2 linked regions of the Homo sapiens genome follow. The protein of the gene in region 1 purifies or fractionates together with the protein of each later gene. This does not show direct contact. Each region holds a gene or a part of one and is shown in the gene's direction. Other genes may lie near its edges.

Evidence for each region. The genes of interacting proteins can lie anywhere in the genome.
Region 2: the proteins of ALDH9A1 (region 1) and RPS6KA3 fractionate together in Homo sapiens (co-fractionation; one large-scale study listed by BioGRID). This does not show direct contact.

What each region holds. Positions count from the first base shown.
Region 1 is NC_000001.11:165,673,692-165,678,891, reverse strand, and holds part of ALDH9A1 (4-trimethylaminobutyraldehyde dehydrogenase isoform 1 precursor), read left to right. Parts: intron 1-5,200. UniProt on the Homo sapiens protein: Converts gamma-trimethylaminobutyraldehyde into gamma-butyrobetaine with high efficiency (in vitro). Can catalyze the irreversible oxidation of a broad range of aldehydes to the corresponding acids in an NAD-dependent reaction, but with low efficiency.
Region 2 is NC_000023.11:20,172,910-20,176,409, reverse strand, and holds part of RPS6KA3 (ribosomal protein S6 kinase alpha-3), read left to right. Parts: intron 1-57; coding exon 58-160; intron 161-1,121; coding exon 1,122-1,246; intron 1,247-3,500. UniProt on the Homo sapiens protein: Serine/threonine-protein kinase that acts downstream of ERK (MAPK1/ERK2 and MAPK3/ERK1) signaling and mediates mitogenic and stress-induced activation of the transcription factors CREB1, ETV1/ER81 and NR4A1/NUR77, regulates translation through RPS6 and EIF4B phosphorylation, and mediates cellular proliferation, survival, and differentiation by modulating mTOR signaling and repressing pro-apoptotic function of BAD and DAPK1.

The sequences.
Region 1 (5,200 bases):
AGTTATTCTTGTCTTTCAGGACGTTGACATTTTGGGAGAACAGGCCATTCATTTTGTAGAATGTTCCTTAGTTTGGGTCTGTCTGATGTTTTCTGTTAGATTCATATTATGAATTTTTGGCAAAAATACCACAAACATGATGTCATATCCTACTCAGTGGTGATTTAACTTTGATCACTTGCTTTAAGGTAAGTCCTCACTGTAAAGTTACTGTTTTTTACTTTGTGGTTAATAAGATCTTGTAGGAGGTATTTTGAGACTATCCTGTTCCTCATCAAACTTTCATGCAGTAAATACTTCTATCACCACTGACGATTCTTGCTGAAAACAATTTTTATTATGGGGTTGCAAATGGTGATTTTCCAATTCCATCATTTCTTCTATATTTGTTCACCTTCTACTGTAAGAAAGAACTTGCCCTTCACCCCTGTTTGTTTTCCATTCATTTATTTATATCAGTATGGACCCATGGATTCTTATTTCATTCTATGTGTTATAATCCAATACTATCATTATTTATTTATTTTTTATTTTTATTTATTTACTTACTTATTTTTTGAGACGGAGTCTAGCTCTGTCCCCCAGACGGTAGTGCAGTGGCACGATCTCGGCTCACTGCATCCTCTGCCTCCCAGGTTTAAGCGATTCCCCCGCCTCAGCCTCCTGAGTAGCTGGGATTACAGGTGCCCGCCACCATGCCCAGCTAATTTTTGTATTTTTAGTAGAGACAGAGTTTCACTGTGTTGGCCAGGCTGGTCTCAAACTCCTGACTTCACAATCCACCCACGTTGGCCTCCCAAAGTGCTGGGATTACAAGTGTGAGCCACTGTACCCGGCCTTTATTTTATTTTTTTATTGAGACGGAGTCTCACTCTGTCACCCAGGCTGGAGTGCAGTGGCACGATCTCAGCTCACTGCAACCTCCACCACCTGGGTTCGGGTTCAAGTGATTCTCCTGTTTCAGCCTCCCAAATAGCTGGGACTACAGGTGTGTGCCACCACGGCTGGCTAATTTTTTTTTTTTTTTTTTTTTTGAGACAGAGTCTTGCTCTGTCGCCCAGGCTGGAGTACAGTGGTGCGATCTCGGCTCACTGCAAGCTCTGTCTCCTGGGTTCATGCCATTCTTCTGCCTCAGCCTCCCAAGTAGCTGAGACTACAGGCACCCGCCACCACGCCTGGCTAATTTTTTGTGTTTTTAGTAGAGATGAGGTTTTACCATGTTAGCCAGGATGGTCTGGATCTCCTGACCTCATGATACACCTGCCTTGGCCTCCCAAAGTGCTGGGATTACAGGCATGAGCCATTGTACCCAGCCTCATTATTTATTTTGATGCTAAAATAATTGCAGATGGCTGGTGGGAATCCCTTTCCGTGACCTTTTGATATGCCCTCATTATTCTTTGAATACTTCATTACTTTCTGGCATAGCAAAGTGTTCCAGACTCATACTTCCCCTGGCTGTGCTCTGGAACCAGCCATTTCTCTGAAGGAGGCCTGGTTCCATTATTGTTTATCTGTTTATTATTAATTTTTGAGACAGGGTCCTGCTCTGTTGCCCAGGCCGGAGTGCAGTGGTGCTTTCTTGGCTCACTGCAATCTCGGCCCCTCCAAGGTCAAACAATCCTCCCACCTCAGTCTCCAGTGTAGCACACCACCACATTCAGCTAATTTTTGTATTTTTTGTAGAGACGGGGTTTCACTGTGTTGGCCAGGCTGGTCTTGAACTCCTGGGCTCAAGTGATCCAAATGCCTCGGCCTCCCAAAGTGCTGGGATTGCAGGCATGTGCCACCGTGCCCGGCCTGTTTTTTATTTTTTGTAAACTTTTTTTTATGATTTAGAAGGACTATCTTCAAACCAGTACAAGTATTTCATAAATAATATCTGATTGTTTTCTAACCAGTTGAGTAATTTGTTGCACGATAAGCCACCTCACATCTTTCAGCAAGAAAAATACTAAGTCTGAACAGTAAAGACATTACACAATGAGTTAGGACACAATTAAAATCTGCTTTAAATATTTTTTTGGGGGAGAGGACACCACACTTCTCTACTAAATAAAGAGAAACAATTTTGCAGTCCAGAGGTCTTTTATTTTTTTATACCTATCATGCCATGAATTCATAGGGAATAGGTTCCAGCAGCTCAGGCTCCTTCCCGTTGGTTCTCACACAGTGGGATTCCCTGGGTGGAGTAGGCTGGTGCTTCAGCTGAAACCAGGTACCTTTCTCTTTGGCTTCCTTCTTTTTCTGATCATCTTCTTTCATGCATTTCAGAAGCTATCTTGGGTCTTAGAGCGCTTAATGTGCTCAATGTGCACGTTAATTCTCTTGGCAAGAATTTTGCCCTTAATTTGTTTACAGCAGTGCCAACAACATGCTGGGTAACATTGTAGACTCTTCCAGTTTTTCCCAGGTAATGCTTTTGGGCATTCCTTTTTGAATAGTACCCGTTCGCTTGATGTCTACAGTATTGCCTTTCTTATAGATTTGCATGCACGTGGCCCAAGGAACAACTCCATGTTTTCTAAAAGGCCTAGAGAACATATATTGGGTAATTCTTCTCTTTCCCTGTGTTTGTCGTTTTGGTGAATTACTGGAAGACGGCAGTACCAACCAAAAGCCCTGGTTCCATTTAGTGGTAAATGGTATTTAGAAACCAAGATCTGAGTGCCAGGTGTGCTTGTTGCTACTGGTGTATCATTGCTTCTAGGCCCTCTCAGAGGCCAGTGCTGGGAAATACATGTTTGTATATATGTCTGTGCACATATCTAGTTCTGTATCTGTCTGTCTACATAATAATAAGTTCATCCAGATACTTTAATTATAGTCTAATACCACAGGGTTCATTTCTGCCTTCTCCCTTTCCATATTTGTATTTGTTCTCTGACAGTAAGAAATTTGACTCCCATTATCCACAATGTTTATCTAATTGCTCATCATAGAATACACTTAGTATTCTAATAATAGTAGTTTCAGATTTGTAAATCCATACCTCTGTGGAAAATAAACCTTCTAATTAGAGCTCAGAATTTTTTTACAGTTGTTTTTATATTCAGCGTGAGAGTATAGTCAGAATACTGTGTTCAAAAGTTACTTGGGTCAGTTCTACCTTTCCTTCACCCTCCTTCAGTGTGGTTATGATACTCATTTAAAATAACAGATTCATTTGTTTGTGTTTGTATTCATTTGGGTTTTATTTCCCCCATCCTTGCTGATTTTAAAATTTTATTTTGATTAGGCAAAACACAAACATGGTTCTAAACATCAGAATTTTACAAAAACAGATACTCAGAAGTGTTACTGCTCCCCATCCTGTGTACTCTGTTTCCAGTGCCTCCTTCCCACCCAGTTTTGTCCATCTCCTGTGGGTAGCCAGTCTGATTTGTTTCTGGTTTTTGCTTCCTGTGTTTCTTTTTCCACAAATGAATAGGTACTTGTATATTTCTTATTCTTCTTTCATACACAAAAGGTAGCACATTAGAGGTACTCTTTTGTACTTTGCTTTCTTTGCTATGTGTGTGTGTGGATGAATATACACACACAAAGAATACATATAGTATAGAATATATAGAATAAATATATAGAATATTCTACATAATCTGTACTATGTATACTTTATATATATATAGAGAGAGAGAGAGAGCACTAAAAATAATTGTGACGTAATGTGAATTTATTTTATTATTATTATTTTTTCGAGATGGAGTCTCACTCTGTAGCCCAAGTTGGAGTGCAGTGACACGATCTTGGTTCACTGCAACCTTCGCCCCTGGAGCTCAAGCGATTCTCCTGCCTCACCCTCCCAAGTAGCTGGGACTAGAGGCATGCGCTACCACACCCAGTTAATTTTTTTGTATTTTTAGTAGAGACAGGGTTTCACCATGTTGGCCAGGCTGGTCTTGAACTCCTGAGCTCAGGCGATCCACCCGCCTCAGCCTTCCAAAGTGTGGGATTATAGGCGTGAGCCACCACGCCTGGCATGAGCCACCATGCCCAGTGTGATTTTAAATATGTATCACAATTTATCCGTTCATCTGGCAATGGGGTTATTTCCTTATCTTGGTTATTGTGAATAATGCTGCACTGAGCATGGGAGTGCAGATATGTCTTTAAGCTACTGATTTCATTTCCTTTGGTATATACCCAGAAGAGGAATTGCTGAATCATAGGATGGTTCTATTTTTAATTTTTTTTTTTTTTTTTTTTGATTCGGAGTCTCACTTAGTTGCCCAGGCTGGAGTGCAATGGCACGATCTCAGCTCACTGCAACTTCCGCCTCCTGGGTTCAAGTGATTTTCCTGCCTTAGCCTCCTGAGTAGCTGGGATTACAGGCATGTGCCACCACGCCTGACTAATTTTGTATTTTTAGTAGAGACGGGGTTTCTCCATGTTGGCCAGGCTGGTCTCGAACTCCTGACCTCAGGTGATCTGCCCACCTCGGCCTCCCAAAGTGCTGGGATTGCAGGCATGAGCCGCTGTTCCCTGCCAATTTTTAATTTTTTAAAGAGCCCCTATCCTGTTTTCCTTCATGGCTATACTAACTTACATTCTTTTTTTTTTTTTTTTTTTTTTTTTTAGTGAAAGGAAGTTTATTAAGAAAGTAAAGGAATAAAGAATGCCTACTCCATAGGCAGAGCTGCCCCAGGGGCTGCTGGTTGCCCCTTTTTGTGGTTATTTCTTGATCGTATGCTAAACAAGGGGTGGGTTATTCATGCCTCCTCATTTTAGACCATATAGGGTAAAATGACGTTGCCATGGCATTTGTAAACTGTCATGGTGCTGATGGGTATGTCTTTTAGCATGTTGATGCATTATAATTAGCATATAATGAGCAGCAATGACGACCAGCGGTCACTCATCACCATCTTGGTTTTGGTGGGTCTTAGCTGGCTTCTTTACCACAGCTTGTTTTATCAGCAAGGTCTTTATGACCTGTATCTTGTGCTGATCTCCTATCTTATCCTGTGACTTAGAATGTCTAACTTCTTGGGAATGCAGTCCAGTACGTCCCAGCCTTATTTTACCCAGCCCCTACTTAAGATGAAGTTGCTCTAGTTCAAACACCTGTGACATTTCCCCTCTCCCTTTTATAAAAGAACCCTTAATCCTAAGGGTTGCAGAGGGACAAAGATCCATCTTCTGTAAACTTTTTCATGCTGAATAGGGGCAATGATATTCCTGTCTAATTATTAGGGTCTCT
Region 2 (3,500 bases), on another chromosome or scaffold:
TGAAATATTTCTTTATAATTAAAATATGTCTAAGTCTCTTTTTTTTTTCCCCTCCAGAAACTGTATAGAAGAGAAATTCATCCGCCATTTAAACCTGCAACGGGCAGGCCTGAAGATACATTCTATTTTGATCCTGAGTTTACTGCAAAAACTCCCAAAGGTAAGGAGAAAATGTGAAAATCCAAATATAAGACAACAAATATGTTTTTTTCTTGTTTCATCAGAAAATCTTTTCCAGACTCTGGGCGCGGTGGCTCACACTTGTAATCCCAGCACTTTGGGAGGCTGAGGCGAGCAGATCGCTTGAGGCCAGGAGTTGGAGACCAGCTTGGCCAACATAGTGAAACGCTGTCTCTACTAAAAATACCAAAATTAGCCAGGTTTGGTGGCATGTGCCTGTAATCCCAGCTACTTGGGTGGCTGAGGCACGAGAATCGCTTGAACCTGGGAGGTGGAGGTTGCAGTGCATCAAAATTGCACCACTGCACTCCAGCCTGGGTGACAGAGCGACACTCTGTCTCAAAAAGAAAAAAAGAAAATCTTTTCCTGGATAACTCTCTAAGCTATCTTCACATCTCCTAAATTTGCTGTAGATCAACCTTGTATCTCCCCTGTTCCACCCCAACTAGGTTATTATTGAGGGCTGCAGTTTCTAATATGGTAGCCAGTAGCCACATGTGGCTAATTAAATTTAAATTAATTAAAATTTAAAGTGTAGTTTCTCAGTCACGCTAGGCACGTTTCAAATGTCGAAAAGCTGCATGTAGCTAGTGGCTATCAGACTGTAAAGTTAAAGAAAATTTCCATCATTTCAGGAAATTCCATGGGACAGCATTAATTTTGAATACCATTAACCCTATAATTCATCGATGTATTATAGTCTTCAAATGAATTAGCTATTTTCTAGGCTCCGAGGGACTAGGATGTTGGTGTTGTAATGGCAATACACAATCAGAACAGATCTGATACAGTGCCTCACAGGTATCCTGGAAAGCAAGAGGTATATACTGTGTACCTGAGAAATAGAATTCCAGAATAAGTGAAAAAGGTCATAGTGTCAACAGTTTTTCCCTTAATTTCCTTTCAAATGAATCTTCTTTGTCACTTCTTACTCTTTTCAGATTCACCTGGCATTCCACCTAGTGCTAATGCACATCAGCTTTTTCGGGGGTTTAGTTTTGTTGCTATTACCTCAGATGATGAAAGCCAAGCTATGCAGACAGTTGGTGTACATTCAATTGTTCAGGTGAGTGGATGTCTAAATAATTTTAGATTTGGAATGTTGTAAGATATAGTTCATTCTGTGAATAGATCTTTTTCTACTGACTTCAAGTGAGCAATTTAAAATACATTTTAGACTGGGCATAGTGGCTCACACCCGTAATCCCAGCACTTTGGGAGGCCAAGGCAGTTGGATCACTTGAGGTCAGAAGTTCAAGACCAGCCTGGCCAACATGGTGAAACCCCTATCTCTACTAAAAATACAAAAATGAGTTGGGCATAGTGGCACGTGCCTGTAATTCCAGGTACTCAGGAGGCTGAGGCACAAGAATCACTTGATTCTGAGGCAGAGGTTGCAGTGAGCGGAGATCGCACCACTGCACTCCAGCCTGGGTGACAGAGTTGAAACTCTGTCTCAAAAAATAAAATAAAATACATTTTATATCATTAACTTTACTCTTAGGAATTTTTTTCATATGTCATCGAAAAGGTTGCAAGAACCAAAATCCTAGATACCTATGTGACTTGAAAGTAGAGTTTTAGGCCAGGTGCGGTGGCTCATGCTTGTAATCCCAGCACTTTGGGAGGCCGAGGCGGGCAGATCACAAGGTCAGGAGTTCGAGACCAGCCTGTCCAACACAGTGAAACCCCGTCTCTACTAAAAATACAAAAATTAGCTGGGCGTGGTGGCGCATGCCTGTAATCCCAGCTACTTAGGAGGCCGAGGCAAGAGAATCACTTGAACCCGGGAGGCAGAGTTTGCAGTGAGCCGAGATCCGCCACTGTACTCCAGCCTGGGCGACAGAGCTAGACTCTGTCTCAGAAAAAAAAAAAAAAAAAAGAAAGTAGAATTTTAAAAGAGTTGAGATAAACATGACGATGTTGTCTATATCCTCTCCTGTGCCTCAAAATGTTTTTCATGCCGAGTTTGTTTCACCCTCTGCCTCCTTCAGGTCAGCTATGATGAATTGAGGTCTTCTGGTTCTTTGATGCCTTAGAACAGGAGTCGGCAGACTTTCTCTGTGAAGGGTCAGATAATACTTGAGGCTTTGTGGGCTATATGGGCTGTGTCACAACTACTCAACTCTGCTATGTAGCACAAAACAACCACAGACAATACATAAACAAGTGGGCATGGCTGTGCACCAATAAAACTTTATTTACACACACAGGCAATGAATCAGATTTGGCTCACTGGCCATAGTTTGTCAACCTTTGCCTTAGAAAAGATACAAGAAATAAAAATGAACTCAAATCTTAAGTCATCTTTCTAATCAAAGGGAACTCGATATATCTTTTGAAGCATTGGATTCTTTTTAGGATATCATTTGTACTTGGATTTGCTTGATGATTAAGTTGCTTTTGCTCTAAAGTTTTTTCATGAGTCAGTTATCCTGTTTTCCATTTTGTAGAAAAACAATTAAAACACTGGTTTTTAAGCAGAGCTCATGTTGAAATAGTCTGTGCCATTTACTATGCAAGCACATGAATGTATGGCAAGTTTTTAAATTACAAATTCTGTACCTAACATAGAAACCACAAACTTGTATATCCTACAAAATTCAAGTTTTAACATATACAAAGCTCATAGGCATGGATGTCTCATATCAGTATAGCCAAGGGCAGCACAACTTTCCTCAGCCTGTTTATGGAATCAGTAAGTTGCTGTTCATCATCTACTGTGTGTTATTAGTCCCTAACCCATGACGAGCTTCTTTAGCATAAGTTGTGTAAGGCTATGACTTCAGGGTGAAGAAAGGAGGGAGTGGCTACTGAAAGTCCAAAATGGCGATAACAGGTATTGCTTGCAAATACATTATTTTTATTTAATCTTCACCATTACCCTCTGAGAAAATACAGGCTCAAAGTTACATAGCCTGTAAGTGGTGTACCTGAGACAAGAATTCAGATATTCTAATTCTGAATCCTCCTAAATCCTTTCCTTCTATACCATAGGTTTCAAACTTCTCATTTGCAAAGGTACTTGAAAACCTATAGCCGACTGGGGACTGGAATAAGGCTGAATCACAGACAAAGATGTAGGCCCCATATCAAGTAGCTCTGCTTTTTCTGTTGTGCAAATTCAATTTTTGTTTGTAACATAAGCTTTTTTAAGTCATATTTCTTGCTGTACACTTCATTGTAAACACTTTCAAAATCACTTGTTTGTAGAATAATAAGTACTATAAAGATGTATTTTTATTCTTATTCATTTATATGTAGGGCATCAACAATGCATGCTGAGTAACATACTTCCCTATTATAAAATGCACTAAAGG